Linked DNA regions of Homo sapiens. The protein of the gene in region 2 interacts with the protein of the main gene of each other region in a biochemical or structural test. Each region holds a gene or a part of one and is shown on either strand. Other genes may lie near its edges.

The links.
Region 1: the proteins of MAPK1 (region 2) and HDAC6 form a complex in vitro, tested with the Homo sapiens proteins (2 studies listed by BioGRID).
Region 3: of the proteins of MAPK1 (region 2) and CAPN2, one has a biochemical effect on the other in vitro, tested with the Homo sapiens proteins (one study listed by BioGRID).
Region 4: of the proteins of MAPK1 (region 2) and TPR, one has a biochemical effect on the other in vitro, tested with the Homo sapiens proteins (2 studies listed by BioGRID).
Region 5: of the proteins of MAPK1 (region 2) and PTPRB, one has a biochemical effect on the other in vitro, tested with the Homo sapiens proteins (one study listed by IntAct).
Region 6: of the proteins of MAPK1 (region 2) and PPP2CA, one has a biochemical effect on the other in vitro, tested with the Homo sapiens proteins (2 studies listed by BioGRID and IntAct).
Region 7: of the proteins of MAPK1 (region 2) and TNFRSF25, one has a biochemical effect on the other in vitro, tested with the Homo sapiens proteins (one study listed by BioGRID).

Annotation. Positions count from the first base shown.
Region 1 is NC_000023.11:48,804,888-48,809,113, forward strand, and holds part of HDAC6 (protein deacetylase HDAC6), read left to right. Parts: intron 1-550; coding exon 551-635; intron 636-743; coding exon 744-784; coding exon of another isoform or gene 785-788; exon of another isoform or gene 789-1,480; coding exon 1,481-1,577; exon of another isoform or gene 1,578-1,721; coding exon 1,722-1,819; exon of another isoform or gene 1,820-2,073; intron 2,074-3,145; coding exon 3,146-3,250; intron 3,251-3,370; coding exon 3,371-3,439; intron 3,440-4,226.
Region 2 is NC_000022.11:21,790,568-21,794,793, forward strand, and holds part of MAPK1 (mitogen-activated protein kinase 1), read right to left. Parts: intron 1-4,226. UniProt on the Homo sapiens protein: Serine/threonine kinase which acts as an essential component of the MAP kinase signal transduction pathway. MAPK1/ERK2 and MAPK3/ERK1 are the 2 MAPKs which play an important role in the MAPK/ERK cascade.
Region 3 is NC_000001.11:223,753,564-223,757,789, forward strand, and holds part of CAPN2 (calpain-2 catalytic subunit), read left to right. Parts: intron 1-1,916; coding exon 1,917-2,086; intron 2,087-3,805; coding exon 3,806-3,817; intron 3,818-4,141; coding exon of another isoform or gene 4,142-4,168; exon of another isoform or gene 4,169-4,226. UniProt on the Homo sapiens protein: Calcium-regulated non-lysosomal thiol-protease which catalyzes limited proteolysis of substrates involved in cytoskeletal remodeling and signal transduction. Proteolytically cleaves MYOC at 'Arg-226'.
Region 4 is NC_000001.11:186,364,665-186,368,890, reverse strand, and holds part of TPR (nucleoprotein TPR), read left to right. Parts: intron 1-908; coding exon 909-1,005; intron 1,006-4,226.
Region 5 is NC_000012.12:70,567,677-70,571,902, reverse strand, and holds part of PTPRB (receptor-type tyrosine-protein phosphatase beta), read left to right. Parts: coding exon 1-79; intron 80-452; exon of another isoform or gene 453-613; coding exon 614-877; exon of another isoform or gene 878-1,964; coding exon 1,965-2,228; exon of another isoform or gene 2,229-2,405; intron 2,406-4,226. UniProt on the Homo sapiens protein: Plays an important role in blood vessel remodeling and angiogenesis. Not necessary for the initial formation of blood vessels, but is essential for their maintenance and remodeling. Can induce dephosphorylation of TEK/TIE2, CDH5/VE-cadherin and KDR/VEGFR-2.
Region 6 is NC_000005.10:134,219,303-134,223,528, reverse strand, and holds part of PPP2CA (serine/threonine-protein phosphatase 2A catalytic subunit alpha isoform), read left to right. Parts: intron 1-4,226. UniProt on the Homo sapiens protein: Catalytic subunit of protein phosphatase 2A (PP2A), a serine/threonine phosphatase involved in the regulation of a wide variety of enzymes, signal transduction pathways, and cellular events.
Region 7 is NC_000001.11:6,463,007-6,467,850, reverse strand, and holds the start of TNFRSF25 (tumor necrosis factor receptor superfamily member 25 isoform 2 precursor), read left to right. Parts: upstream 1-1,677; 5' UTR 1,678-1,743; coding exon 1,744-1,782; intron 1,783-2,290; coding exon 2,291-2,411; intron 2,412-2,628; coding exon 2,629-2,763; intron 2,764-3,131; coding exon 3,132-3,299; intron 3,300-3,397; coding exon 3,398-3,476; coding exon of another isoform or gene 3,477-3,480; exon of another isoform or gene 3,481-3,740; intron 3,741-4,703; coding exon of another isoform or gene 4,704-4,723; coding exon 4,724-4,779; coding exon of another isoform or gene 4,780-4,786; intron 4,787-4,844. Other genes in the region: PLEKHG5 (pleckstrin homology domain-containing family G member 5), read left to right, coding at 1-26, 279-288. UniProt on the Homo sapiens protein: Receptor for TNFSF12/APO3L/TWEAK. Interacts directly with the adapter TRADD. Mediates activation of NF-kappa-B and induces apoptosis. May play a role in regulating lymphocyte homeostasis.

The DNA.
Region 1 (4,226 bases), on a different chromosome or scaffold from region 2:
ACAGTTGGAGGAAGAGTATTCTAGGCGGGGGTGGGGGGGCCAGCTAGAGTAAAGTTCTAGGGCTGGCTGAAGAGTATTTGGTTCAACTGAGAACCAGGGAAGAGACCAGTGTAGGTGAAGCGAAGCAAAGGAAAGAGGGAGGGGTAGGAGATGGGGTCAGAGAGGTGATGGAGGACAGATTGTTTAGGGCCTTCTGGGCATGGGTAATACTTTGGCTTTTACTCAGAATGGGATGGGAGCCTCGAAGGGACATGAACTGATTAGGGTTTTAACCAGTGTCTAGCTGCTATGCACAGAAAGGACCGTTGAGGTGGCGAGGGTCGAAGCAGGGAGGCCGAGGAGATGCCGCCACAGCCCAGGCGGGAGGGTATGGTAATAGCAGTGGCAGTGGTGAGGAGAGGGTCACACACCAGAGCTGATGGGAGGCAGGACTGACACCACAGTTTTGGGGTAAGCAGCTGTGGAAGGGTGGATGGGGAGATGTGGAGAGAACAGATGTGGAGCTCCCCAGTGTCCTCATGCATCTGTGACTGTGACTCCATCTCCCCAGCTTCCCGGAAGGCCCTGAGCGGCTCCATGCCATCAAGGAGCAACTGATCCAGGAGGGCCTCCTAGATCGCTGCGTGTCCTTTCAGGTAAGGCCCCCAAGCCAACACTCTGGGTGAAGGGCAGGGAGCTGACCTGACCTGGGTGCAGCCCATGCCTTAACCCTTTACCCCACTTTATTCCTCATCTCTCCCCAGGCCCGGTTTGCTGAAAAGGAAGAGCTGATGTTGGTTCACAGGTGAAGGCTTGGGAGCCTTGTAGGGATGGGGAGGAGCCTGCCCTGGACAAACCAGGGCAAGCTAAACGCTTTGGGAAGCAATGTCATGGTCTCTGCAGCCAGCCTTGGGCAAGTCGCTGAGCCTTTCTGAATCTGTGTCATCGCCTGTAACAAGGGGACCAGTAAACATAAGTTCCTCAGGAGAGTTTGATGTGTGTCAGGTGCTTAGAACAGGGCCTGATATATAATCAGCCCATGATGAGCTATTACTGTTATCATGATCTGATTGTGTGAATAGATGGTGGATGTGTGGACAGAGTGATCGGGGTTCCCCCAGGGGCTTCCAGATTTAGAGGCCTAGTGCTATGTGGCTTGAGGAAAGCTAGCTTCCAGAGCAGGTATCTGAGCTGAACTTTAAGAGGAGAAAAAGAGTGAGTCAGATGAAGAGGGTGACTGAGGGAAGGGAAGAACAGACAGCTGAACCAGTGTGGCCAAAGGCCTGAAAGTAGGATTTGGTGTGGCTACTGCAGGGGAGCAGAGAACATTACCTGAACTGAGGCGGGCTAGGGAAGAAACAGAATGTGTCTTATATCCTGGCTATTCCTTCAGGTTGACAGTTGGGGGAGCCAAGCCCTAATTTGACCAGGGGGTTGGTGTATGGACAGCTCAGTTGGGGAAGAGACAGGGCCCTGAATCTCATCTCCCATCTGTGTCTAGCCTAGAATATATTGATCTGATGGAAACAACCCAGTACATGAATGAGGGAGAACTCCGTGTCCTAGCAGACACCTACGACTCAGTTTATCTGCATCCGGTATGGATGAGAACTCTGCGGGCAGGGAATGGTGGCAATCTTGGGGTCCCCATCCCTATGCCCACCCCACCCTGGGGGAAGCAGCTGAGTGGATAGGGCTGTTCTCTCCCTTACTCCCTTTCTGGCTCCCCACTGTCTCTCCAGAACTCATACTCCTGTGCCTGCCTGGCCTCAGGCTCTGTCCTCAGGCTGGTGGATGCGGTCCTGGGGGCTGAGATCCGGAATGGCATGGCCATCATTAGGTAGGACTCTACAGCATTTGACTTTTTACATTGTTTTAAAGTCCTTCCTTCAAGTGTAAAATGTATTGATATGGGTAATATATTCATGTGATTCAAGAATCCAAAGGTAAAAAAGAGAATATAATTAAAAATCTGTCTCCCATCCTTGTCACCCAGACACCTGCCTCCTCTCATGGGAGGTAGTCATTGGAACCACTGACTCATGTGTCCTCCCACAAAGTCTTATTCAAGAAATAAATACCATATTTCATTGATTCTAAGGTGTACATTTTTTCATATTTGTAACATCTTGAAATCCAGATGCATCTTACAAACAGTGACATCTCAGAATTCCATTGGCAGTATTTTCTGCTTCGTTTTTGGCATGTAAAATCATGGTACATCTTATCATCATTGGCATCCCAGAACTGATGAAATGCAAAAGCTTTCTCCTCCCTCCCCTGTTTTTAACCACAAATGGTAGTAACATGACATACTCCCTTCGTACCATCTTTTCACTTACACATCTTGGAAACCTTTCTCTAACAGTATGTATCTTGGAGCCCGGTAGAACACCATTGTGTAAATGCACTCTATGTTAATCAGTCCCCGACTAATGGGCATTTTGGTTCTCCCCAGTCATTTGCTGTTTTAAAAAAATGCTACAGCAAATATGCTAGTACCTTTATAAAAATAAAATTTTATTTTACACTAACATAAAATAAAAATGTTACTTCACCCTTTTTAAAACACAGGTTGTGGGCTAAGTTCCTGCAGCAGAATGACTGGGTATGAGAATGAATGCGTTGATCATTTTATTTTTATTTTTATTTATTTATTTATTTTGAGACGGAGTCTCGCTCTGTCACCAGGCTGGAGTGCAGTGATGCAATCTTGGCTCACTGCAACCTCTGCCTCCCAGGTTCAAGTGATTCTCCTGCCTCAGCCTCCCAAGTAGCTGGGACTACAGTCGCCCGCCACCACACCCAGCTAATTTTTTGTATTTTTAGTAGAGACGGGGTTTCACCGTGTTGGCCAGGATGGTCTTGATCTCTTGACCTCGTGGTCCACCCACCTCGGCCTCCCAAAGTGCTGGGATTACAGGCCTGAGCCACCGCACCCGGCCTTTATCATTTTAGTGAACATTTTCAAATCTCCTTTGGAGACAGAGGGGTAGATTGGCAGGGGGTGAGAGTTTGAGGGCCTCCATTACTCAGTTCCCGGCAGATTTTTAGGCATCAGCATTAAAGGAATTGGTGGTCCAGGATTAGAGAGCAGGGGACAGTCTGTCTCTGCAGAGGAGGACCCCTCACATACTCCAAGCTGTTATTTCCTTGTCTTGCCCAGGCCTCCTGGACATCACGCCCAGCACAGTCTTATGGATGGCTATTGCATGTTCAACCACGTGGCTGTGGCAGCCCGCTATGCTCAACAGAAACACCGCATCCGGAGGTCAGCAACAGAGGGCAGATGTGATGGGGGTGGCATGGGGTGGGGTGTCCTGGTCTGGGCTCTTCCCCCAGATTCACCTTGATCTCCTTGCACAGAGTCCCCTCTCTCTGCTGCTCCTAGGGTCCTTATCGTAGATTGGGATGTGCACCACGGTCAAGGAACACAGTTCACCTTCGACCAGGACCCCAGGTATACCCCGACTCCCACCTAGGTGCTAGACTCCCAGCCACCTCCCACCCTTACAGGCCCAGCCAGAAGGGGTCCAGAAGGAGGAAAAGGCATTCACATTCATGGGGCCTATCCTGGGATCAGGATCTGTGCTACTTTTGTGTGTCTGCCATCTCTCCTAATTTCACTCTGAGGCAGGGACTGTTGGGTTCCCTATTTTACAGATAGGGGGACTGAGGCTTATACGTTAAGAGGTCACACAGAGAAGAACTGGGAGAGACGGGATTTGACCCACAAATATTTGAAGATCTTATTCACTGATTAACCGTTGGGTTAGAGTGAACCTCAAATTACTGCTTTATTTTTTCTGATTAGGATAATGCTTCAAAGTGTTTGTTTATCCTTTCAGTAGATAGTAAAAAACAAATATAAATAAATAAATAACAAACTATTTGTTTAAAGAAATTAAATAATACAGAAGTGTCTGAAGCAGTGAGTCTCCTCTAATTTCCATTACCTCAAAAATAAGTGTTGACAGTTTAGGTTATATCCTTACAGATTTTCTCTATAGATGTCTGAATTTTTATTATTATTGTTATAATTATTAATAACACACTGCCTAATGGAATAATTCTCCACATGTTCTTCGACAACTTGCTTTATTCATTTAACAGCATATCTGGGACATTTCTCCATGTTAGTACCTCTTAAAGTATCTCGTTCTTTGTAGTATTCAATTTTATGACTGTACCTCTGGTTATTTAACCCCAGGACTTTTAAGATGCCTGCCAGTTTTTGCTATTACAGG
Region 2 (4,226 bases):
CTCACCTCAGCCAGGTCCTGAGTAGCTGGCACTACTGAGTAGCTGGCACACAGTAGGTGGGCCACAGGCATACACCACCACACCTGGTTGATTTTTAAATTTTTTGTAGAGAAGGGGTCCCACTATTTGCCCAGGCTGGTTTCAAACTCCTGGGCTCAAATGATCCTCCTGCCTCAGCCTCCCAAAGAGCTGGGATTACGGCATGAGGCACCATACCTGGCTCCAGAAGTGCCTTCTAATACAATGAAGTGCTTTTCTGGTATTCATGTTAAAAATGCATGACCCAAAACTGAGGGGCATTCTACAAAATAGCTCATCTGCACTCTTAAAGGAGACTAAAGAAACACAACAACCTGTCTCTATGAAAAGCACAAAAATAAATAAGTAAATCAGCCATGAGCAGTAGCACGTGCCTGTAGTCTCAGATACTTGGGAGGCTAAGGTGGGAGGATGGCCTTGAGCCCAGGAGGCGGAGGTTGCAGTGAGCCGAGATGGTGCCACGGTACCCCAGCCTGGGTGACAGAATGAGAACCCGTCCTTTTTTTTTGAGACGGAGTCTTGCTTTGTCACCCAGGCTGGAGTGCAATGGCACGATCTCAGCTCATGCAACCTCCACCTCCTGGGTTCAAGCGATTCTCCTGCCTCAGCCTCCTGAGTAGCTGGGATCACAGGTGCCTGCCACTATGTCCAGCTAAATTTTTTGTATTTTTAGCAGAGACAGGGTTTTGCCATGTTGGCCAGGCTGATCTCGAACTCCTGACCCCATGTGATTCACCCACCTTGGCCTCCCAGAGTGCTGGGATTACAGGTGTGAGCCACTGTGGCTGGCCTGCGAACCTGGTCTTAAAACAAGCAAGCAAACAAGCAAACAAACAAAACTCATGACAGTACAACATGTGAACCTGTGCCCAGGTCGGGGGGTGGTTTGGGTGGGGTATAGTTCAAAGGTTATTGGGATAATATCTAAAATGTGAATATAAACTGTGCATTAGATACTGAATCAGTATTAAGTTTCTTGATTTTGAAAACTGTACTGTGGTCATGTTAGAGAATACTCTTAAGGCAGGGTTTTTCAACCTCGGTATGACTAACATTTTGGGCTGAGAAAGTTTCTGTTTGGAGGGCTGTTCTGTATATCGTAGGATTTTTAGCAGCATCTCTGGCCTCTTGATGCAGGGAGTACCCCTACCCCTCACTGTGACAACCCTGCCACATGTCCCCAGGGAACAACAGGACCATGGTTTGAAGTAAAGACATACTGAAACAAGGTGAAGGGGTGTATCTACAATTTACTCTCAAATGACTCAGAGTGCGTGGGAGTGCCCACACACATGCACACAAAGAATGATAAAGCAAATGGGGCAAAAGATAAAAAATCGGTGAGCCTGAATCTGGGGTAAAGGGTATTTAGGAGTTCTATCTGGCGGTTCTACAAGAGTGTTCCAGAGACTCCTATGGGTTCCCTCTAGAGGATCTGAGAGGTCACAGTACATTTATTATACTACTATGACATTTTCATCCTTTTCAGTCACGAGTGAAAAGAAGATTTTTCCAGATGCAATATGATGAGTGATGATGTGTACATGAAAATGTGACACTTGGAATATCTGTGTAACTCAGTGAACCAGTATTTTCCAAATACGCTAAAAAATCATGCATGAGTATGAGTGCAAGGTAGACTAATGGATTTTAACGAAATAGTATCAAGAATTCACTGATATGATTTCAGATTCCACACTGCAATTAACCTTTAAGAAACCACCACTTGTTTAAACTGGGGGTAGGATCAAAGAATAGCCACAAGTGGCTGAAAAGACTACTAAAATTTCCCTCCTTTTTCCAGCTACATACCTGTGTGAAGAGTTTTCCTCTGGCCATACCACCCTGAACACGCCCGATCTTGTCTGATCTCGGAAGCTAAGCAGGGTTGGCCTGGTTAGTGCTTGGATGGGAGGAATAGATCTTGAATTTCATAAATAGCACTCAGACATCTATTTTTAGGCTTATTTGTAAATGTCTTGATAAAATGTCTGATTACTGTTACATACTAGGGAAAAATCTCACTTTTTTGTGTGTTATGCTTTTAAGCATAGATTTTGTTTGCTAAAATGTTATTTAGAATTTTGCATGTATTTTTCACTGGCTTGCGATTTTTCTTTTTATATAACATCTTTTTTAAAGGGTCTTTATTAATATTGCACTCAAGTTTTCTTCTGTTTTCTATGCTCTGAATTCAAGCAGTTAAAATCCATGGGAAAGAGTTTTCCTTGACATTTTTGAAGAACTATGCATGTAATATTATATTGATTATTAAATTGATTAAAGCCTGAAAAAAAAAAAAAAAAGAGTTTTCCTCATGAACTTAAACCAAAACAACATATTTGACAGACTGAATGCAGAACCAGATGAGAATCCAACTGTCTTCTATTAAGCCAGACATTAAAGAGACTTGCAAAAATGAAAACAATGCCACTCTTCTCACTAAAAGGTTGTTTTTCGTTTTGCTTTTTTTAAAGACAGGGTCTCACCCTGTTGCCCAGGCTGGAGTGCAGTGGCGTGATCACGGTACACCGCAGCCTCAATTTCCTGGGCTCAAGAAAATCTCCCATCTCAGCCTCTTGAGTGGCTGGAACTATAGGTGCACACCACCATGCCCAGCTGATTTTAAAATTTTTTGTACAGATGGCAGGGCACAGCAGCTCACACCTGTAATCCCAGCACTTTGGAAGGCCGAGGCAGGTGGACCACAAGGTCAGGAGGTTGAGCCCATCCTGGCTAACATGGTTAAAACCCTGTCTCTACTAAAAATACAAAAAAATTAGCCAGGCGTGGTGGCGGACGCCTGTAGTCCCAGCTACTCGGGAGGCTGAGGCAGGAGAATGGCGTGAACCTGGGAGGCGGACCTTGCAGTGAGCTGAGATCACACCACTGCACTCCAGCCTGGGTGACAGAGCACGACTCCGTCTCAAAAAATAAATAAATAAATAAATAAATTTCTTTTTTGTACAGAGTCTCACTATGTCACCAGGGCTGGTTCCAAACTCCTGGTGATCCTCCTGCATTGGCCTTCCAAAGTGTTGGGATTATAGGTGAGAGCCATCATGCCTGGCCTCACTAAAACGTTTTTATTGTAGAAAATAAACTTATTCTTAAGAAAAACATGTAATTTATCTTAACATGTAGTGGGTTTACTATTTAAAAATTAATTAATACATTTTAAAGTTTCATATTGTAGGCCGGGTGTGGTGGCTCATGCCTGTAACCCCAGCACTTTGGGAAGCCGAGGCGGGTGGATCACCTGAAGTCAGAAGTTCAAGAGCAGCCTGGCCAACATGGTGAAACCCCATCTGTACTAAAAAATACAAAAATTAGCCGGGCATGGTGGTACACACTTGTAGTCTCAGCTACACGGGAGGCGAGGCCGGAGAATCATTTGAACCCGGGAGGCAGAGGTCGCAGTGAGCCAAGATTGAGCCATTGCACTCAAGCCTGGGGGACAAGCGCCAGACTTCTCTCCAAAAATTAAAAAAAAAAAAGTTTCATATTGTAAATAACAATAGATATAACCTACGTAACTAAAAAAAGGTGTGTGGGTCCTTGACTTTTTTTTTTTTTTTGAGACAGAGTCTCACTCTGTCACCCAGGCTGGAGTACTGTGGCAAGATCTCGGCTCACTGCAACCTCCACCTCCCAGGTTCAAGCGATTCTCCTGCCTCAGCCTCCAAGTAGCTGGGATTACAGGTGTGTGCCACCATGCCCAGTGCATTTTTTGTATTTTTAGTAGAGACAGGGTTTCTCCATGTTGGCCAGGCTGGTCTCGAACTCCTGGGCTCAACTGATCCACCCGCCTCGGCCTCCCAAAGTGCTAGGATTATAAGTGTGAGCCACCATGCCCAGCTGGTCCTTGATAATTTTTAACAAATGTAAAGGGATCTTGGCTGGGCGCAGTGGGTCATGCCTGCAATCCTAGCAATTTGGGAGGCTGAGGTGGGTGGATCAGTTGAGCCCAGGAGTTTGAGACCAGCCTGGCCAACATGGCAAAACCCTGTCCCTACAAAAACATACAAAAATTAGCCGGGCATGGTGGTACACGCTTGTAGTCCCAGCTACACAGGAGGCAAGGCTGGAGGATCGCTTGAGGAGGGGGTGGCTACCAGCCTGGGTGACAGAGAGAAACCCCGTCTCAAAAAAAAAAAAAAAAAAAAAAAGCCAGGCACGGTGGCTCA
Region 3 (4,226 bases), on a different chromosome or scaffold from region 2:
TGGGGCACACCTTCAGTGCTTGGAACTATCCTAAGTGTTTTGTACACAGGGTGAGGATCCATAATCTGAAAATGTGAAATCTGAAATGCTCCAAAATCCAAAACTTTTTCAGCCCCAACATGATACCACAGGTGGAAAATTCGACACTTGACCTCAGGTGACAGGTCGCAGTCAAAACACAGTCAAAACTTTGTTTCATGCACAAAATTATTTTAAATATGCTATAGAATTACCTTCAGCCTATGTGTATAAATTATATATGAAACAGAAATGAGTTTTGTCATTAGACTTGAGTTCCATCCCTAAGATATGTTATGTATATACAAATATTCCAAAATCCAAAAAAATCCAAAATAGGAAACACTTCTGGCCCCAGGAATTTCAGATAAGGGATATTCAGCCTGCATAACATTCTATCTAACCTTCCCAACAAACTTCTGAGGCAGGCACTTTCTTATCACCTCCATCTCTAAGATGAGGAAACTGAGGCTTGGAGAGGCTAGTGACTTGCTGAAGGCCACAGAGCGTGCTGGGATTTGAACCCAGGCCCCCTGACTGAGGAGTCACTGTGTAAGTACAGTGGCAGCAGATCATGGTCACATAGTGATTCTCTGTGACAGATGAGGAAGCTGAGCCTCTAAGTCGCATACCAGGGCCACAGAGCAAGTAGTCAGACTGCGGCTAGCTGGCCTACAGTTCTGGGGCTCGGACTCCTTCACCTCAAGTATGCAGCCACCAAGTGGCAGTCCCAGAGGCGCTGGGAAGGCCCTCTGCCCCCCACAAGGGACCCCTCCTACCCACTAGATCAGGAGTCGGAAAACTCCCTCTAAAGGGTCAGATAGTAAATAATTTTGGCTTTGTGGGCCACTCAGTCTCTATAACAACAACTCTATTGCTATAACCCAAAGGCAGCCATACTTAAGCGAATGGCCGTGGCTACGTTCCAATAAAACGTTATTTACAAAAACAGGCAGCGGCCTTCGGAGCCATAGCTGCCAACCCCTACACAAGATGGTGCCTGTAATTTCACAGTTAGGGTTTTATCCCATTAGGTATGGAAAGGCAATTAGCATAATTCCCCTTAAACATGAATGAATCTTAGATTTTTTAAATAAATAGGTTTTGGAAGTAAAGAGGGCAGAGACATCAGGAGCAGGGCAAGGGAATAGGCCTGAGAGGACAAGGGACGCAGAACAAGAAAGAGTCTGGAATTATACACAGGATGTTCTTGGCCTCCGGGCTCACCGAGGGGGCGGCGACCGGCAAGTGCAGGGAGCAGATCCCGGAGTCCCCCAGGCCAGCCGAGCCCCGCCCCAGGCTCCCCATCAGAGCCCAGTGAAGAGAAGGTACCATGAGGGGAAGCCACAGCTCTAACCACCCTGCGTTCCAGAGTGACAGACCAGTCCCCAAGACAAGCCAGCCTGGAGCCAGAGAGAGAACTGCAAGAGAAAGTTTCTAATTTAGGTTCCTGTTAGATTCAGACAAGTGCAGGTCATCCTCTCTCCACAGCTACCGTCACCCGTCTCCAGCCTAACAAAGCCTGCAGTCCACACTCCAACCCTGGTGTCTCCCACCTCCTAGCCTCTCCCAACATCGCCTGCCGTCTCTGACCATCTTCTGCCATCCTCTGCCATCTCCCACCATCTCCCACTGTCTCCCACAGCCTCCCACCGCCTCTTGCCAACTCCCACCATCTCCCGCCATTTTCTGACATCTCCCGCTGTCTCCCACCATCTTCTGCCATACTCTGCCATCTCCCACCATCCCCCACCACCTCTTACCATCTCCCACCACCTCCCACCATCTCCCTTTATCTCCATCCCTCTCAGAAGCCTCCAAGCCTGAGACCAGGGCCACCCCCCACCCCCATGCATTCCTGCTCAGGGCTGGGCTCCTCTGCCCCTTTCTGGCTGCAGACACATTCTGGATGAACCCTCAGTACCTGATCAAGCTGGAGGAGGAGGATGAGGACGAGGAGGATGGGGAGAGCGGCTGCACCTTCCTGGTGGGGCTCATTCAGAAGCACCGACGGCGGCAGAGGAAGATGGGCGAGGACATGCACACCATCGGCTTTGGCATCTATGAGGTGCAGAGCGCAGGGGCTCCTGCCCTCCCTTCCCCATGTGTTCATCTCAGCCCCTGCATGGAAAGCTGACCCCAGAGGCAGAACTGGGGATGGGATCCCAGACCGGGAGCTTGGCCAAGGAAAAACAAAACTACCAGCCTGGCCAGGCTCAGGAGTAGCCCCCGTAGGGAGGCCCCTGCAGTGGCTCTGGGTTGTGGGGCCTTCTAAGCCCTTCACGGGCCCCCCACAGCCAGCCTGCAGGGAGTTCCACTCTCAAATGGCCTCCACATCCCTTCTCACATCCTCCAGGCCTGGCATTCTGGTCAGCCTACCCATCTTCAAAGAACAGAATATACTGGGCCACATCAGGCAATACTGTGAGGGCAGGACTGAGTCCATGGGTGCAGCTGCTCAGAGCTCGGCAAAGTCATTGGCCTGGATGGTGGAGAGCTTGGGGACAGGGGAACATTGGTCATGATGCTCCCCCCAGGGCTCTGATGGCTGGAGCCCAGATCCCTACACAGACTCCTGCTGTATGCGTGTTTTCCTTTCACTCTGAGCCACAGCCAGAGGGCAGCCGCATTGCAGTCTCCTCTCCGCCCTCAGGCTGGGGCTGGGGCACTGAGAACTCACCCAACACGCTGGGCCCCTGGGCTCTCCCCACTCCCTTCTGCAAAACAAGAAAGAGCTTTCGTGGGCTGCAGGTAGCCATGCGAGGAGAGGGATGAAAGGAAGGCTTTAGGGCACTGACTGGGGATGCATTTCGGTTTGATGGGCTGGAGCTGGCTCCTCCCGGCTCCCAAAGCCCATCTCTTTTCTCTGACCCATGTCTGCTGAGGTCCTTCAGCAGCCTGAAAAATGGCCCTGGCAGGGACCTGTTTACACCATGGAAAGTGGCAAATAGTACAAATCAGAGCTTCCACCCTCTCCCAAGAGCCAGTTTCCCAGCACACCCCTGGGAGAATCCAGACGAGGTGTCAGGAGAGGAGGCTCTGTGCTCACCACTGGCAACGTTGCCACCCATGGAACACTGACTTCTACCTGCTCACCCACCTGAGAAAGGCAGCTGGGCAAATACCATCAGTTGTAAAAATGCACATAGGCCTAAACCCCTCCGTCTCTGAAACAGGAGCTGAGGACTTCGGATCTGGGACAGAATCGATCCAAGGACAATGCAAATGGAATTGTGATACACAGCTTCCCTCCCACCGGCTTATGGGCTTGGAAATGCAGCCACGGGCTTTCAGAGTTGGGACGGACCTTGGGGATCACTGGGTCCTATTTTTGAGACAAGAAAACTGAGGCCAGAGAGGAGAGGGGACTTGCTCAAGGAAATGCAGACCGGACCACTGGACCTGGCTGACAGAGGCCGGCACTGCTGGCTCCTAGCCCCAGGTGTATTTCACCTCGCCTGCTGCCTCCTCCAACAGGGCCCGCCTGGCCCTCTTTCCCTGCGTGGGAGGCCGATATGGGCTTTGCCACCTTAGACAAGTCTCTTCACATCTCCATGCCTGAGATTTATACTCTAAGTTAGGAAGGGAGGTGAGGGCTTATCAACATAAGAGGATTTTCTTCAGTGTTGGAGAGGCTTTGAGTTCCTTGGAAAACAGTTACTCGGTTGAATTAGTTGATATTGCTAATGCTACAGAGAAAACGGGGGCAGCGGAAGAGAAGAGCACAGTGATGCATTTTCTTACACTGCTTTTCCGGCATCTGAATTGCATCTCCTTTATTTTGCAGGTTCCAGAGGAGGTACGTCTGGCCCATGTCCCGGGGTGCTCAGGTCACCAAAAAAGCGAGAGGCTTAGACTGCTGGAGCTCAGGGAGCGTCGTGAAGCCCGGGCAGGGGCTGGTGGTCATGAAGGATGAGTCCTGGCCACCCCTGGGGCCCTGCTGAAGTTGCCCAGGCTCTAGATCCCACTGGTCTAAGCTCTGGGCAAGGTTTCTGGAAAGTCCTTGTGGGACCCGCTGCCTCCCTGTGACCTGGCAGAGCCCATACAGGGTTTGGTTCTGGGCAGAAAATCCATGATCCTGAGACTGCAGGAGGCTTTTCACAAAGTTCTTTGTCACTCTTAGGAGAAGACTGAGTCAGGGAAAAGGTGAACCCTGCAGACTGTACTAGAAGACAACGCGGGAGCACAGAGGAGACCAGGACCCAATT
Region 4 (4,226 bases), on a different chromosome or scaffold from region 2:
AATGTAAGACCTGAAGCCATAAAACTCAGAGAAGTGAACATAGGGGAAAGGTTCTTGACATTGGCCTTGGTAATGATTGTTTGGATCACATCAGTAGTTCAAGCTGCAAAAAGAAATAAACGGAACTACATCAAACTAAAAAGCTTCTACACAGGAAACAAGAATATTAAAAGGCAACCTACAGTTCTGACATAGGTAGCTTGAGATAGATATTTCTAACTCAAAAACATGTAGATTGCCATTGTTTTGCTGGGAAGCAGTTTGACAAGTTTTTTGTTTTTGAGACAGGGTCTCACTCTGTCACTCAGGCTAGAGTGCAGTGATGCAGTCTTGGCTCACTGCAACCTCTGCCTCCCGGGCTCAAATGATCATCCCACCTCAGCTTCCTGAGTAGGTGGGACCGCAGGCATGTGCCACCATGTCTGGCTGTTTTTTTCTACTTGTAGAGACTGGGTTTCGCTGTGTTGCCCAAGCTGGTCTTGAACTCCTAGACTCAAATGATCGGCCCAGCTTGATTTCCCAAAGTGCTGTGATTACAGGCATGAGCCACTGCACCTGGCTGACAAAATATATTAAAAGTTTTAAGTAATTCAATTTTTAGGAATCTTTCTTGAAAAATAATTTGAACTAAGGTGTAAATACAGTGATATTCTAAGTTATTAGGACATTTCCATGTGATTAAAAGAGATATGAGAAAAATTTTCATAAGCCTAGTAAAAATGTTTTAAAAATCCAAAATTTAAATAGAAACATTGGAATTACGGGTATTTTTTAACTTTGATGTGTAAGTTATAAGAGAAAGCCAGTCATTTACACTACAGCTGATGTTAACTAAAGTGACAATTCTATGTTCGCTTTCCTGTATTGCTCTACTTGATTTTCTTACTTATTACTTCTTTATATGACAGAGCCAATTTACAAGAACAAAGGAAGAATTAGAAGCTGAGAAAAGAGACTTAATTAGAACCAATGAGAGACTATCTCAAGAACTTGAATACTTAACAGGTATGAAGAAGTGCTTGTAGCTTTTAGCTCCATTCCTTTATTTTTCTTCTGTTAGTGCTAGGAGTTAGTGCTCAGCCCATTTCTGTTGCTGATATTTTTTTGTTATGGTTGAGTATAGAGTTGTCATATCCTATTATTTCTCCTACTCATTTATCTTTAAATCATTGTCAAGTGTTTAAAGAAGTGTCTAGAAAGTGCACAAGTGAAGAACATCTCAAAGAAGTAGTAATTTGGACCAGATTTTACATGCAAAGATTTTCACTACAATGCTGTACATAATGTCAAATTGGAAGCACTTTAAATATTTGCAAAGGCTGAACTACTGTTCTTTATTTCATATGGACATCCTTGCTATATAATAAGCATTCAATATAAGAACATATACTCAGCCTATATTTATAAACAGACTGAAGGAGGCAGAGACATAAAATACATAAACATAGACTGTAGTATATAATACAGCTGATGTAGTCAGGTGAACTTGACTCTGAAGCAGTTAATGGTAAGAAGTTTCCTTTGGTGCCCAGGCACGGTGGCTGACGCCTGTAATCCCAGCACTTTGGGAGGCTGAGGTGGGTGGATCATGAGGTCAGGAGTCCAAGAGCAGCCTGGCCAAGATGGTGAAACCCCGTCTCTACTAAAAATAACAGAAATTAGCCAGTCATGGTGGCACGCACCTGTAATCCCAGCTACTTTGTAGGCTGAGGCAGAGAATTGCTTAAACCCAGGAGCCGGAGGTTGTAGTGAGCCAAGATTGCGTCACTGCACTCCAGCCTGGGCGACAGAGCTAGACTCCGTATCAAAAAAAAAAAAAAAAAAAAAAAAGGTGTTTTGGGTTCTTTTTTTTTTAATGGTTTTTGAAATTTTTTTATTTCTATAAAAGAAAGGATTTTCAGATATTTATATCATTATACAATAATATTCCATTAGTTAAGTATACTTTCCCAGTCTCACAAGAGTTCCTTCAAAATACTTGAGTGTGTTGATCAACAAGTGGTAGTTACAACTAAACGAATTCATAAAATCTAGATATTTAATAGATAGTTTTTTAAAAATGTGTATTCCATATTGAGTAGGTTTTTATATTAGTGCTTTTTAGCTTAATGATTATTTATAAAATTTTAATAGGTCTTTGGATATATATCAGGAAAATTAAGGTTAACGTTGAATATTTAGCTTAACACACTGTATTTAAAATAAATTTGGATAATTCACAAGTTTGGATACACAAATTTCAATTTTTTGTCATATATTTGTAGAAATTGAATTTGTAATTAACTATGGCAGAAACAAGTTAAAATAAGAGAGTTGAGAACTACAGTTGACCCTTAAACAACACAGTGGTTAGGGTTGCTGATTCCCCCCACAGTTGAAAATTTATGTGTAACTTTTGACTCCCCAAAAACTTAACTACTGCTGTTAACTAGAAGCCCTACCAATAACATACACAGTAGATTGTCATACGTTTTGTCTGTGATCTGTATTATATACTGTGCTCCTTCAATAAAGTAAGCTAGAGAAAAAAATGTTAAGAAAATCATAAGGAAGAGAAAATACGTTTACTGTACATTAAATGGAAGTGGATCATCACAACCATCTTCATCCTCCTTGTCTTTACATTACCTAGGCTGAAGAAAAGGGGTTGGTCTTGCTGGGTCAGGTTGCAGAGGTAGAAGGGGAGGCAGAAGAGGGAGGCACACTCAATGTAACTTTACGAAATACAGCCTAATTTCTGTCTGACTTGCTTTTTCATTTCTCTAAAAATGTTTCTATACATTACCAATCTTCCTTCCACCGTTTGCTATAGTTTCAGTGCCCATGTAAGAGAAGGATCCATGTCATAAAAGAAATCAAAAGCAGTCTTGGGTAATCAGAACCCTTCCACCAGATAGTCTGTTACCAATATGTTTTCTGACACTGCTAGTTCTACATTCTTTTTCCACATCGTCTGGCACTGGTTTGGAAGCACTCATCTCCATCCAGTCATCTTCTGTTAATTTATCTGATATGGTGGCTATTAGCTCTTGGATTTCTCCAAGGTCCGTATCTTGAAACCCTTCATCCCACTTTTTTTGCCATATCCACAATCTCTTTCATGATTTCTTTGATTGGCTCTGTTACAAATTTTGTGACATCATGCACAACATCTGGAGAGTTTCCTCCAACAGGAATTTATTATTTCAGCCTTGATGGCTTTCATAACTTTTTCTGTAATGAAAAAGAAGGGATGGCCTCTTCAGTGTGTTATCCTTTAAAACTTTCATGATATTTTCTCTGTTGGGGTTCTCTTCCACAGTGTTGACATTTTCTTTTCACAAAGTATCATCTCTATTGAGCCGTAAAGGTCCTTATGACTCCTGATCTAAAGGCTGAATTAGAAACATGTTTGGGAGCAAGTAGACTGCTTTGACACCTTCCATGTTGAACTCCTGGGTTCTGGGTGGCCAGGGACAGTGTCTAAAGTCAAAAGAACTTTAAAGGCAGCCCCTTGGCCAGGTACGGTGGCTCATGCCTATAATCCCAGCACTTTGGGAGGCCGAGGCAGGTAGATCACCTGAGGTCAGGAGTTCGAGACTAGCCTGGTCAACATGGCAGAACCCCATCTCTACTAAAAATACAAAAATTAGCTGGGCGTGGTGGTAGGCGCCTGTAATCCCAGCTACTCAGGAGGCTGAGTCATGAGAATCACATGAACCAGGGAGGCAGAGGTTGCAGTGAGCCAAGATAATGCCACTACACTCCAGCTAGGGGGATAGAGCGAGACTGTCTCCAAAAAAAAAAAAGGGCAGCCCCTTTACTAGCAAGGTACTTTCTGACTTTAGGGACAAAGCATGAGTGGAACCAATTCAGAGAAGGGGGTCTGTCATTGTCCAGGTCTTCTTCTTGTGTAACCAGAAGACAGGCAGCTGGTGTTTATCTTTTTCCTTTGGGCCCTGGGGTTAAAAGCTTTATAAATAAGGGCAGTCCTTATCATAAACCTGACTGCATTTGCTCAGTACGGTAGAGTTAGCCTATCCCTTCCTGCCCTAATCCTGGTGCTCCCTTCTCTTTCTTACTAATAAATATCTTTTGTGGCATTGTTTTTTCCAGAATAGTACACTTCTATCTGCATTAAAAACCTGGTGCAGGCATATAACCTTTCTCAATGATTTTCTTAGCAGCATCTGCTGTTTCTTGGTTGACAGAACCTGCTTCTTCAGTTTTGTTGACATTTTTATAAG
Region 5 (4,226 bases), on a different chromosome or scaffold from region 2:
CCTGGACGGTTGTACAGTGTCACTGTTACTACAAAAAGTGGACAATATGAAGCCAATGAACAAGGGAATGGGAGAACAAGTAAGTGGAACGATTGCAAAATCTGACAGTTGGTTGGACTTGAAAGTCTCTAGTAATTTATCTGAACCTTGAATTTTTTCTGCTTATTCATTAGTACATTACATTCCCAGTAAGTCTCACTTGGTGCTAACATCATTCAGCCAAGCCATGGCCTATAATTACAGAATATTTATTGGTAGATAAAAGCAAACATAGTGAGGGAGCAAGAAGGCTAAATGTCCCATTTTTCTTCCCTATCTTCCTGCATCATGGCATTTAGATTCTAGACTTCTTGTTTTATCTTATGATTGAGATCATAACTCATTTTATAATTATGTTCTACCAATGCTGATCATGTAACATTTATGTCAGGAAAAAACCACAATGTTAATAGTTGCTTCCAATTTTTCTTGTTTAATTATGCATGAAGTAGTGCTAGTGGTTTATTTGGGGAAGGGAGATGTTGCCAGTTCCTTGAATGTGATTCATAAATTATTATGTAGGTAAACTCTGATCAGTTCCTTTCCTGAAATGTCTTCTCATTTTTCTCCCTAGTTCCAGAGCCTGTTAAGGATCTAACATTGCGCAACAGGAGCACTGAGGACTTGCATGTGACTTGGTCAGGAGCTAATGGGGATGTCGACCAATATGAGATCCAGCTGCTCTTCAATGACATGAAAGTATTTCCTCCTTTTCACCTTGTAAATACCGCAACCGAGTATCGATTTACTTCCCTAACACCAGGCCGCCAATACAAAATTCTTGTCTTGACGATTAGCGGGGATGTACAGCAGTCAGCCTTCATTGAGGGCTTCACAGGTAATGTGAAATACTGTTCTTGAACCTGAATAGATGCAGTGGTGCATTTAACTTTCGGGTAGTTCAGGTATTTCGATTGAGCATTTGGAGGGATAAAAGGGAGACAGCAAGAAGGGACAAAGTCATGTTGATAGTGACAATGATGTTGTCCAACCTGGATGAATGAAAATAAAGTATGATGTCAGCAGAGAGTGGCGGGGTTGGAGGGTGCTTTCAGAGAAATAGCAATGAACTGATGTGATCAGCTGGTGCTTCTGAGGCACACAGATTAAGAATTAAGTGTTACTTGGGTATCACTTCTTTAGAACTCTTTTAGGAGTGTTGCCATAGTAGTTAACATGTACTGACAGTTCACCATGAACCAGACCCACAGCAAAGCATTTTATGTCTACATCTTGTTCAGTCTTCACAATGCTTTGGAAGCCAAGGCAGGAGGATAGCTTGAGCCCAGGAGTTCAAGCACAGCCTGGGCAACATGACAAAACCCTGTCTCTACAAAAAATACAAAAAAATTAGCCGGGCACGGTGTTACGTGCCTGTAGTCCCAGCTACTGGGGAGGCTGAGGTGGGAGAATCACTTGAGCCCAGGAGGTATAGGATGCAGTGAGCCATAATCATGCCATTGCACTCCAGCCTGGACAACAGACAGAGACCCTACCTCAAAAATAAAATAAAATTAAATTAAAAAAGAATCAATCTTCACAACTCTATGGGCTGGTTAGTATTATCATCACTGCCATTTTTCCTAATGAAGAAACTAAAACTTACAGAGGTCAAGTAATTTGCCTGTAGTCCCACAGCTAGTGAGTGAGAAAACCAAAACTTGGACCAAGACACCCTAACTAGCCCCTCGCTATATAATTAGCATTCCTCATTTCCACTCACCGGCTTTGACTTCCCCCTAAGCTTTCCCCCATCAACTTTAGTTCACACAGAAAAATCAGAGAAAAGTGGCAAATTGTTACTTTCTTTTTCATGTGAGTTCTCTCAGTGGGTGCCAAAACATCAGAAGCATTCAAAACTTTGTTTGAAAATTTCAACAGTTCATTCTCTAAGTGATGACTTTTAAATTTATTTTCTGTTTTAGTTCCTAGTGCTGTCAAAAATATTCACATTTCTCCCAATGGAGCAACAGATAGCCTGACGGTGAACTGGACTCCTGGTGGGGGAGACGTTGATTCCTACACGGTGTCGGCATTCAGGCACAGTCAAAAGGTTGACTCTCAGACTATTCCCAAGCACGTCTTTGAGCACACGTTCCACAGACTGGAGGCCGGGGAGCAGTACCAGATCATGATTGCCTCAGTCAGCGGGTCCCTGAAGAATCAGATAAATGTGGTTGGGCGGACAGGTAAGCATCCACCTGGAGAAGGGCTAGATTGTAGAATGCCTCATGGTTCTCCAAAATGGGACAGTGAACGGGCTCAGCTATTCACAAATCCAGATTTAAAACCACCAAAGTTTGTACAATTCAATGGTTTCAAGAGCCTTACTCATTTATTCTTTGTATTTTTCTCTTAATAGAGATCTGCAAAACAAATGAAAGGGAATCAGAAACCAAATCATTTGAACACATTTTTATACTTGCTAAAGGATAATAAAATTTTAAATTTTAACAAGCAGGCTGGGCACAGTAGCTCACGCCTGTAATCCCAGCACCCTGGAAGGCCAAGGCAGGTAGATTGCTTGAGTTCAGGAGTTCGAGACTAGCCTGGGCAACATAGCTAAACCCCATTTCTACTAAAAATACAAAAAATTAGCCAGGCGTGGTGGTGCACACCTGTAGTCCCAGCTGCTTGGAAGGCTGAGGTGGAAGAATCACCTGAGCCCGGGAGGTCAAGGCTGCAGTGAGTCGTGATCGTGCCACTGCACTCCAGCCTGGGCAACCGGAGTGAGACCCTGTCCCAATAAATAAGTAAATAAATAAATAAATAAATTTTAATAAGGAGACTTCCATAATTATGCATTTTTCAAAAGTTCTACCTTTTAAGAAAGAGTACACATCTGTGCCATCTACTTTACCTGGTAGAGCTAAAAAAACAAGTATCAAATGTATGAATAATATATCTGTTTATATCAATATCACTATTCATGTATTATTTTTGAAAGATCTCTAGCCATACTATAGTTCTCTTACAGATGAGGAAAGAACAGTTCAGAAAGCTTGTAAAACAGTATCAAGGATACGTATATAACAAGACCTAAAGCTATAATTCAAGTCTAGGTCTGTCTGGCCCCAAACCTCGTGCCCTCTCCACTGTGACACAATACTTCTTAGATGTCTCCCATTCTCATGACCACTTATTTAGTTGTGGGGTCTGGGGCTTCTATACCATGCCCTACTATGCCTCTATTTCATATCTATATTTATATCTATATCTGCATATCTTTAACCCTATGACAAATCCTGTGTTAGAAGTGGGCATTCGGGCCAGGCGCGGTAGCTCACGCCTGTAATCCCAGCACTTTGGGAGGCCAAGGTGGGTGGATCACAAGGTCAGGAGATTGAGACCATCCTGGCTAACATGGTGAAACCCCGTCTCTACTAAAAATACAAAAAATTAGCTGGGTGTGATGGCAGACGCCTGTAGTCCCAGCTACTCGGGAGGCTGAGGCAGGAGAATGGCATGAACCCAGGAGGCGGAGCTTGCAGTGAGCTGAGATCATGCCACTGCACTCCAGCTTGGTGACAGAGTGAGACTCTGTCTCCAAAAAAAGAAAGTGGGCATTCAGTAGCAAGGCAAAGCCCCTGACCTCAAGAACCTTATAATCTAGTGAAGGAGATAGAAAAGTAAAAAGGCAATTACAGTAAAACATGGTACGTGCTAAGAAAAAAGTGGTTATGAGATGTTAGAGGAGCAAACAAGAAGAGTCAGGGAAGGCTTTCAGGAGGAAGTAATATTTAAAGAAAGACTAAGAAGTCATCCAGGTGAAGTGTAAGTTGTCTTCGTTCCAACAGAGAAAACAAAGCCCTGGAGGTGAGAGAAAGGATGGCACATTTGGGAACCTACACCTTTTTTAGTATACTAGAATAAAGGCCGGGCACGGTGGCTCATGCCTGTAATCCCACATTTTGGGAAGCTGAGGTGAGTGGATAGCCTAAGTCCAGGAGTTCGAGACCAGCCTGGGCAACGTGGCAAAACCCCATCTCTACTAAAAGTATAAAAAGCAAAAGTATACTAGAATAAAAAATGTGAGGCATGTGGCCAGGTAAGTAGAGAGACCAAATCACAAAGAGCTTTGTTTGCCTGTGAAGGTGTTTTGGAATTATGGAGAGCCACTATAGGGCCATTAGCATGGGAGTGCTATGAAAATATGCTAGATAGAGTCTGCAGATTGAAAGAGTAGG
Region 6 (4,226 bases), on a different chromosome or scaffold from region 2:
TGTTATATAAAAGTTTCTGTGGAATGGATCCGTTTTGGTGGATATCATTATACAACCTTCATACTGTTTATAACTGGTAAGTAAGTATTTCAACTTTCAGGATGATATTAAACTTCCAAACTAAATTAATTTGAAGACAGTTTTTTGGGTATGTAGAATCCATGAACTGATGTTTTTTGTACAAGTCTTTCTAGTAAAACAAAAGCTGTCTTTCACTGTTAATATTTGTGTGCCAATGGCATCTCTGGGTGAAAGCTACATATGTGCTTTTTGGTGTGATTGCCTTCTAAAGAGTAATTTTGAAAATTTGAGGGCTAATTTTTTTCATTAGTGTATAATAATAGTATTTTTTGAGAAAAAAGATACTTGTTAATAGTTGATAATTTCTTCAATCATAAGAAGGAATGATAATGTAAAAGCCTTCCTTCTACCCACCTAAATGCCTGATTTGAAGGGGAAATATTTAAATAGTAAAAATAGATGTATACCATAAGAGGTCATTGTTACTAAAAAATCCTGAGGCCATTATTTTGTTAACCCATCAACAATTAACAGTGTTACATGTTCAGAACTGAGAGAATCTAAGTATGCATTTATAAAAGACAAGAGTGAACATGGTTTTTATGTTACTGACTAGCTAAAAAGAATTTTAAGATGTGATTAAGACTTATACAAAAGCCAAGGTTGTTAGTGTATAGTATACTTTGTCATCTTGAGAATCATAATTTGTTGATAGTTTAATAATTTGGTGTGCAGCTTTGCCTCAGGCTCAGTTCTATAATCAGCATTACATCAGTATAACTGGCCGGGTATGTTTCAATCTACAGATTGAAAGGAGTAAATAGTATCAACTTGCTTTTGCATTGACTACAGTAAACAATCTTTTATTATGTGACTTCAGCTTTGTTTTAGCTTGGGTATGATTTCTTGGCTTTGTGCTTACCAAACATGTGGAGAACGTTGTTTGATAGCCAGATTTTTTTTTTTCAAAGAAGTTCTTTACCTAGGTATGCTGTTTTCCATTGCTTTGCAAGCACTATAAATAAAGTGCAGTCATTAGTCATTAAAATGTTAGTTTTAACATTTGTTACGTGAGTATGGAAAAAACAAACTGCTTCCTTCTAATTAGATGAGCTGAAAAATATTTGACCAAGATGACATTCTTATATGAATTGGGTAATATGTTGCTGTGAGTATGTGTGTACGTTTCATTTTAAAGGGTGTTTGGCTCATTTCTCTAGAAGTGATTTGAATATTGAGGACAAGCAGGTGGGGGAAGCATGTTACAGAACATTATTTTTATCATACTTTTATAAGATATTGTTCTCAGTTACAGATGCAACTCAAAGACTCAGAAAGGTAAAGTGACTTGACTAAAGGGGCTAAAAGTGAGATTGCCAAGGCTTGTGGATTCTAAGCCTAATGTTCTGGTATTGCTTCACAGATCCCCTTCTGTTTTCAGAGGTAGTGTTAGTAGTGAAAGATGTAGGTAAATTGGGGCCAAGCTAAATTGGGAAGTCAACACTTTCATAAAATAAAACTTTTTTTTTTTTTTTTTTTTGAGATAAGGTCTTACTCTTTTGCCCAGTCTGGAGTGCAGTGGCGCAATCTCGGCTCACTGCAACCTCCACCTCCCAGGTTCAAGCAGTTCTCCTGCATCAGTCTCCCTAGTAGCTGGGATTACAGGTACCCACCACCATGCCCAGCTGTTTTGTATTTTTAGTAGAGATGGGATTTCACCATGTTGGCCAGGCTAGTCTCGAACTCCTGACCTTCAGTGATCCACCCACCTCAGCCTCCCAAAGTGCTGGGATTACAGGCTTGAGCCAGCGCGCCTGGCCAAGACATTATTTTTATTTTCATTGCTTGAAAGCTTCCTATTCATGTTACATACTGTTGTTCCTCTTTGTCTTGGAAAGAGTAATTATTATTCAGTTTTGGATGTAGCTGACAACATTTGCCCCTCAAATGAGATTGGTGAGATGAAAACCCTAGATAATTTCCCTTGTATTCTTAGTATAAATCATGATCCAGAGACTGAGCTCTAAAGTATTCTAATAAAGTATAACTGACTTTTTATATTGTTTATTGCAACTTATAAAATGCCTCTTTTCAGCAGGGCAAGGTGGCTCACACGCCTGTAATCCTAGCACTTTGGAAGGCCACGGCAGGCGGATCACGAGGTCAGGAGACCAAGACCAATCCTGGCTAACACGGTGAAGCCCCGTCTCTACTTAAAAATACAAAAAATTAGCCGGGCGTGGTGGCACACACCTGTAGTCTCAGCTACTGGGGAGGCTGAGACAGGAGAATTGCTTGAACCTGGGAGGCGGAGGTTGCAGTGAACCAAGATTGTGCCACTGCACTCCAGCCTGGGCGACAGAGGGAGACCCCATTCCCCCCGGCCCCAAAAAAGCCTCTTTTCATCCTCTTGGCTTCCACAGTCAAATGTCATGCATGTGTGTATTTGTTTCATGGTCTCCTAGGCAGGAAGCTGTAATGCAGTTAGTTTGGAGTTGACTTCATGAGGAAACAGAAAAGGTGAACATTCCCACTATTCAGAAACACAGGTTCCCCAACCCTCCCTACGTTCTCCACTGGGACCAGAATTGTATGTTTTCAGAAAATTGGCTGTAAGGCTAAGTTGAAGCTCATGTACTGTAGAAAGAATGAAGGACCCTTCAGGAGTATGTGGGATAACATTTGTATTACCAGTCTGGTGTGGCCCTGTTTTATGGCAGCAAATATGTTCCCTATCTCATGGTAAGTCAGGTTTGTCAGAGTTACCTGTGAGATAGCCTTTGCTTAGTTTGGAAGGGGTAAGTTAGGAAAACTAAGAGACTGGGTTTGGTGGGGTCTTTTATCAGGGTACTGAGGAGAGAGGCAAAGCTATATGTAACAGGGAGACACTATTTATTCTTTCTGCTTTGACCCATTTCTCTTACTTCATTATCATCCTTGCCTGAGAAAGCTGTCAACCTCCACTCATACACAGGCAGATCTGAATTGGATGAGAACCATGAAGGAGGAAGATTTTTGTTTTTGTGGGCTTTTTTTTTTTTTTTTTTTTTTGAGATAGAGTCTCACAGTCGCCCAGGCTGGAGTGCAGTGGTGTGATCTCGGCTCACTGCACCCTCTGCCTCCCAAGTTCAAGCAGTTCTCCTGCCTCAGCCTCCCAAATAGTTGGGATTATAGGTGTGTGCCACCACACCCAGCTAATTTTTGTATTTTTAGTAGAGACAGGGTTTCACCATGTTGGCCAGGCTGGTCTTGAACTCCTTACGTCAAGTGATCCACCCATCTCAGCCTCCCAAAGTGCTAGGATTACAGGCATGAGCCACTGGCACCAGACCTGTTTTTGTTTTAAATAGATTTTCTTTTGGCTTCTGGGGCAGAAGTGGTAGACCAGGCTGAAGAAGGGAGAGGTGTCTATTGTCAGTAAATGGCTGAGAGGTGGGGTTTGAAAGAATGGTAAAGAACAACCTGAGATTAACTGCTTTTTTTTTTTTTTTTTTTTTGATACGGAGCCTCGCTCTGTTGCCCAGGCCAGAGTACAGTTGCATGATCTCGGCTCACTGCAACCTTTGTCTCCCACGTTCAAGTGTTTCTCCTGCCTCAGCCTCCTGAGTAGCTGGGATTACAGGCATGTGCCACCATGCCTAGCTAATTTTTTTATTTTTAGTAGAGACAGGGTTTCATCATGTTGGCCAGGCTGGTCTTGAACTGCTGACCTCAAGTGATCCGCCCGCCTCAGCCTCCCAAAGTGCTGGGATTACAGGTGTGAGCCACTGTGCCCAGCTAACTGCTTAACTTCTTCACATTGCAGTATTATTGCCTGTTTATTGGTCTGTTGTGGATTGTGGTTTAGAATGGATGAACAAGGCAGTGACACAGATGCGTGTATATCTGAATCTGGGTATTTTTTAAACTAAATGTGACCAGTTGGCCAGTCCCTCTTGCACCCTGTGTTGCCACTTCTGCCTTAGTTTAGTCATTTAGTTGCTACTACAGATGGGGATTTTTACCCTGCTGGTGTTGAGGCTGGAAGGTTGCAAACCTTTGTCCTAGATGGGGACGAGGAGTAGAATGGGAGACAAGCAGTAGCATGTGTTTACCTGGCCAAAGGCCTGCAAAATGTAGTTCACAGAGGTTATGGAGTGTCATTGATGCTATCGTGTGACAGTGTACATTTGATTTTGGAACCAGTATTTAATAAACCTTCATTG
Region 7 (4,844 bases), on a different chromosome or scaffold from region 2:
CTGCTTAACTCCACGCTCACTGCCTCGTGAGTGGCCTGGACTGGGGTAGGGCAGGTGGCTCAGGGCACTGGCATGGGGGCCCACTCATGCCTGGGAGCATCGCATTTGGGGAGGGTCATGGCGGAGGGAGCCTGAACCCTGCCCAGTGTCTGGGCGCAGGGGGCTGTGGTGGGCAGCAGTGAAGGGGCCTGAGGAGTGCCGTGGGGAAGAGAGGGTGACCAGAGCCACTCTGAATGGCGTCAGCCAAAGAAGGACTCTGTCCCCTCCCCACCCTGTAGGGAGGTCTGAGCAGAGGGAGGCCCCCAAGAGTGCCATTGACCAAGAGACAGCAGACAGCCTGCCTCCTGGGGCGTGCCGGCACCTGCTTCAGCTACTGCCTCCTGTATGCATGAGCCGGATGCTGGGCAGGATCCCTGCCTACGCCCGGGCCCGATTTGCGCTTTGCCGGACTGGATGGAGTGGAGGAGGCCCAGGCCACAGTACCACCCCACCTGCCCAGGCAGCCCCTCGTCACCTACTCCCCGAAGTTACCAGCTCAGCTCGAGTCTTCAGGGCTGGGCTCCTAGGCTGCCCATCCTACTTCTACCCTCACTGGCCTCCAGTGGGATTCACTCCTGCCCTGCCCCCACCTTCCCAGTCCCACAGGCCACCCCTGGCTTGGGCTGGGTTCTGTGAAGTTACGTATTTATTGAGCTTTTGGTTCTTTTATAAAGACTTGTCTAGACTCCACTGGGAAGAGTCCTTTGCTTTGGGGCCCAGTGACTCGGGGCACTTGAGTTCAGGGCGGCCTCCTTGTGTTCCTGTGCTCCTCCACTTGCCACGGATGGGCCACGGATGGAGCTTGCCATGGGAAGCACTGGGAAGTAATGGGGTGTGGGGTGCCACCAGACCAACACCCCCAGACTTCCCCACCTTCAGCCACCATCAGAGCCTCTCCCCAGGTGCCCCCCGGGGATTCAGGGCTGAATCTGCCCAGTTCCCACACTCAGGCCAGCCCTCTTGGGAAGGTGGGTCCTCCATGGGGGTCCCTTCAGGAACTTTTTTTTTTTTTTTAATACAGAGTCTCACTCTGTCACCTAGGTTGGAGTGCAGTGGTGTGATGTCGGCTCACTGCAACCTCTGCCTCCCGGGTTCAAACGATTCTCCTGCCCCAGCCACTCTAGTAGCTGGAACTGCAGGTGTGCACCACCACGCCGGGCTAGTTTTTGTATTTTAAGTAGAGACGGCATTTCACCATATTGGTCAGGCTGGTCTCGAACTCCTGACCCCAAGTGTTCCGCCCGCCTCTGCCTCCCATAGTGCTAGAATTACAGGCCTGAGCTACTGCGCTTGGCCCCTTGCGGTACTTTTGGCCCAACCTCCTCCATGGCTGGGGACGCGGAGGCCGAGAGAGAAGTCACTTGCCCTGGCTCTACCTTGAAGTGGTTCTCAGGGTTGGGGCGAGAGTCGGGGTGGGGACCGAGATGCAGCTCTATCCTGTGCCCCTGGTCGCAGCAGGCAGCCCAGCGCTTCGCGTGTTCTACTTGGCCTGTCCGCTGCCGCCTAATGAGCTCAGGTCTAGGCCGAGCAGAGGGGGCACCTGGTCGGACTCGGTTGGGCTCGGGCGGCCCCGCCTCCCCCCGCCCGCCAGGCGGGCCCTTCTCGACGGCGCGGGGCGGGCCCTGCGGGCGCGGGGCTGAAGGCGGAACCACGACGGGCAGAGAGCACGGAGCCGGGAAGCCCCTGGGCGCCCGTCGGAGGGCTATGGAGCAGCGGCCGCGGGGCTGCGCGGCGGTGGCGGCGGTGAGTTGAGACGCAGGAGGCTAGGGGCAGCTTTGAGCCCTGTCCCAAGAGCCTCGGTGAAGGAAGGGGCCCCGGGCGCGTCTCCACTCCAAGCCTCACTGGGGGCTGGGTTGGCCGCCCTTTCCGATCTCGTTAAAGGCTCCTCCAGGGCGTAGCCCTTCCACTGAGAGGAAACCCCTCCCAGGAGGGTCTGGGGGCCCCAGGCAGAGCATTATCAGTGTCCCTCCCCCAACAGAAAGCATGGGTGGGGGTGGGGGCGCTGCTGGATTCCTGCTCTGGTGGAGGGGAAACTTGTGAGGGGCTGGTAAGCGCCCCCTCCGAAGCCTGGTGTGTGCGCGGGGGGAAGGAAGTTAGTTTCCTCTCCACCCATGGGCACCCCTTCTGCCCGGGGCCTGGGAAGTGGGCTGCTCTGTGGGCAAATGCTGGGGCCTCTGAAATGGAGGAGACGCAGCAGGGAGAGGCCCCACGTGGGCAGCTGCGCTGAGAGTCAGCAGCACCTGTCCCCCAGGCGCTCCTCCTGGTGCTGCTGGGGGCCCGGGCCCAGGGCGGCACTCGTAGCCCCAGGTGTGACTGTGCCGGTGACTTCCACAAGAAGATTGGTCTGTTTTGTTGCAGAGGCTGCCCAGCGGGTAAGTGGCCACAGGGGTGGGAGAGGCATGGGGCAGGCAGGGCTGGAGAGGTGGCGGGCAGGCCCGGGAGGTAAGAGGAGGCTGGCAGGGGAGGTAGGGGTAGGCTGACAGAGAAGTAGGGAGCTGGAGAGAAAGAGGGAGGGAGGGCAGGGTGGGAAGCAGGTCGGGGGTTGCTGGGCAGCCCCTCTGCCTGCCTGACCCCTGCCTGGTTCCACAGGGCACTACCTGAAGGCCCCTTGCACGGAGCCCTGCGGCAACTCCACCTGCCTTGTGTGTCCCCAAGACACCTTCTTGGCCTGGGAGAACCACCATAATTCTGAATGTGCCCGCTGCCAGGCCTGTGATGAGCAGGGTGAGGGGCTTCTCAGTGCTTGGCAGGGAGTTCCTAAGGACAGGCCTTTCTGAAGGAAGTGGCTGGCTCGGGCCCAAACTTGGGGTGTGAGGGTCCTGCACCCACCCTTGCCAGAACCCTCCACCCTGATCCTCCTTCAGGGTGCCCTTGCCCCTTCTCTCTTCCTGGTGACCTTCCCATCTCTCCATGTGCCTTGGCCTCTGGTCGGCCTTAATCTCTGAGCTTCTCTCTTTTTTAGGGTAGCCCTGTACCTGTCTGTCTTTCGCCTATTTCTGTCTCCATTATCTTGGGATAATGCCTCTGCCTCTCCATGGGAGCCTTTGGCCCTGACTAACTCTCCACTCCCCATCTCCCTGCACCCCCACCAGCCTCCCAGGTGGCGCTGGAGAACTGTTCAGCAGTGGCCGACACCCGCTGTGGCTGTAAGCCAGGCTGGTTTGTGGAGTGCCAGGTCAGCCAATGTGTCAGCAGTTCACCCTTCTACTGCCAACCATGCCTAGACTGCGGGGCCCTGCACCGCCACACACGGCTACTCTGTGAGTACCCCCACCCAGGGCTCTCTACTCCCAGACCCCCTTCTCCCTGCCTGACCCACTCCTGTCCCATGGTGACGCATGCCTCTCCTGGATTGCAGGTTCCCGCAGAGATACTGACTGTGGGACCTGCCTGCCTGGCTTCTATGAACATGGCGATGGCTGCGTGTCCTGCCCCACGTAATTCCTAGCTGTCGTGGGATGGAGGGAAGGGCGGCTGGGAGCAGAGCAGGGGCCTGGGGTGGGGCAGGTGCTGCTGGTTCAGGAATAGGAAGAGGGGATAGGGAGGAGGGAGCCTTGGCCCTGTGATGGGTGGGCCCCACTTCAGGCAAACTTAGATGGCAAAAGAGCAATCTGGATCCGCCTTAGCCAGATACATAAGGGTATTTGCCTTCACTTTCAGCCAGCATTCCCCCCAGCGATCCTAGCCAGATATTACAGATGATTTGTCACTTACACAGAGAGTCACATTGATATAGCTTTAAAACTTGGGCTGAAGGAGGTTGAGGCTGCAGTGAGCTATGATCGTGCCACTGCACTTCAGCCTGGGCAACAGAGCGAGACCTATTAAATAAATAAATAAATATTAAATCTATTAAATATTAAATATTAAATCTATTAAATAAATAAATACAAAGGGCTGAGAGTCAGGACTGTGCTGCTAGTTCTCTAGGGGATCTTGGGCAAGTGCAGAGAATTCGCGTCTCTGATGTGTGGTGTCCCTTTCTCAACATGGGATGTTAGCAGCTAATTCACAGGCCTTTGATCAGAGGTAAGGGACTTTCTGTAGCTATTCAAGTCTTTTTTTTTTTTTTTTTTTTTTTTTTTTGAGATGGAGACTTGCTCTGTCACCCAGGCTGGAGTGCAGTGGCACGATCTTGGCTCACTACAACCTCTGCTGCCTGGGTTCAAGTGATTCTCCTGCCTCAGCCTCCCAAGTAGCTGGGACTACAGGAGCCCACCACCACCCCCGGCTAATTTTTTGTATTTTTAGTAGAGACGGGGTTTCACCGTGTTAGCCAAGATGGTCTTGATCACCTGACCTCGTGATCCACCCGCCTTGGCCTCCCAAAGTGCTGGGATTACAGGCATGAGCCACCGCGCCCGGCCTCCATTCAAGTCTTTATTGAATATCTGCTATGTTCTACACACTGTTCTAGGTGCTGGGGATGCAACAGGGGACAAAATAGGCAAAATCCCTGTCCTTTTGGGGTTGACATTCTAGTGACTCTTCATGTAGTCTAGAAGAAGCTCAGTGAATAGTGTCTGTGGTTGTTACCAGGGACACAATGACAGGAACATTCTTGGGTAGAGTGAGAGGCCTGGGGAGGGAAGGGTCTCTAGGATGGAGCAGATGCTGGGCAGTCTTAGGGAGCCCCTCCTGGCATGCACCCCCTCATCCCTCAGGCCACCCCCGTCCCTTGCAGGAGCACCCTGGGGAGCTGTCCAGAGCGCTGTGCCGCTGTCTGTGGCTGGAGGCAGAGTAGGTGGTGTGCTGGGAATGCGAGTGGGAGAACTGGGATGGACCGAGGGGAGGCGGGTGAGGAG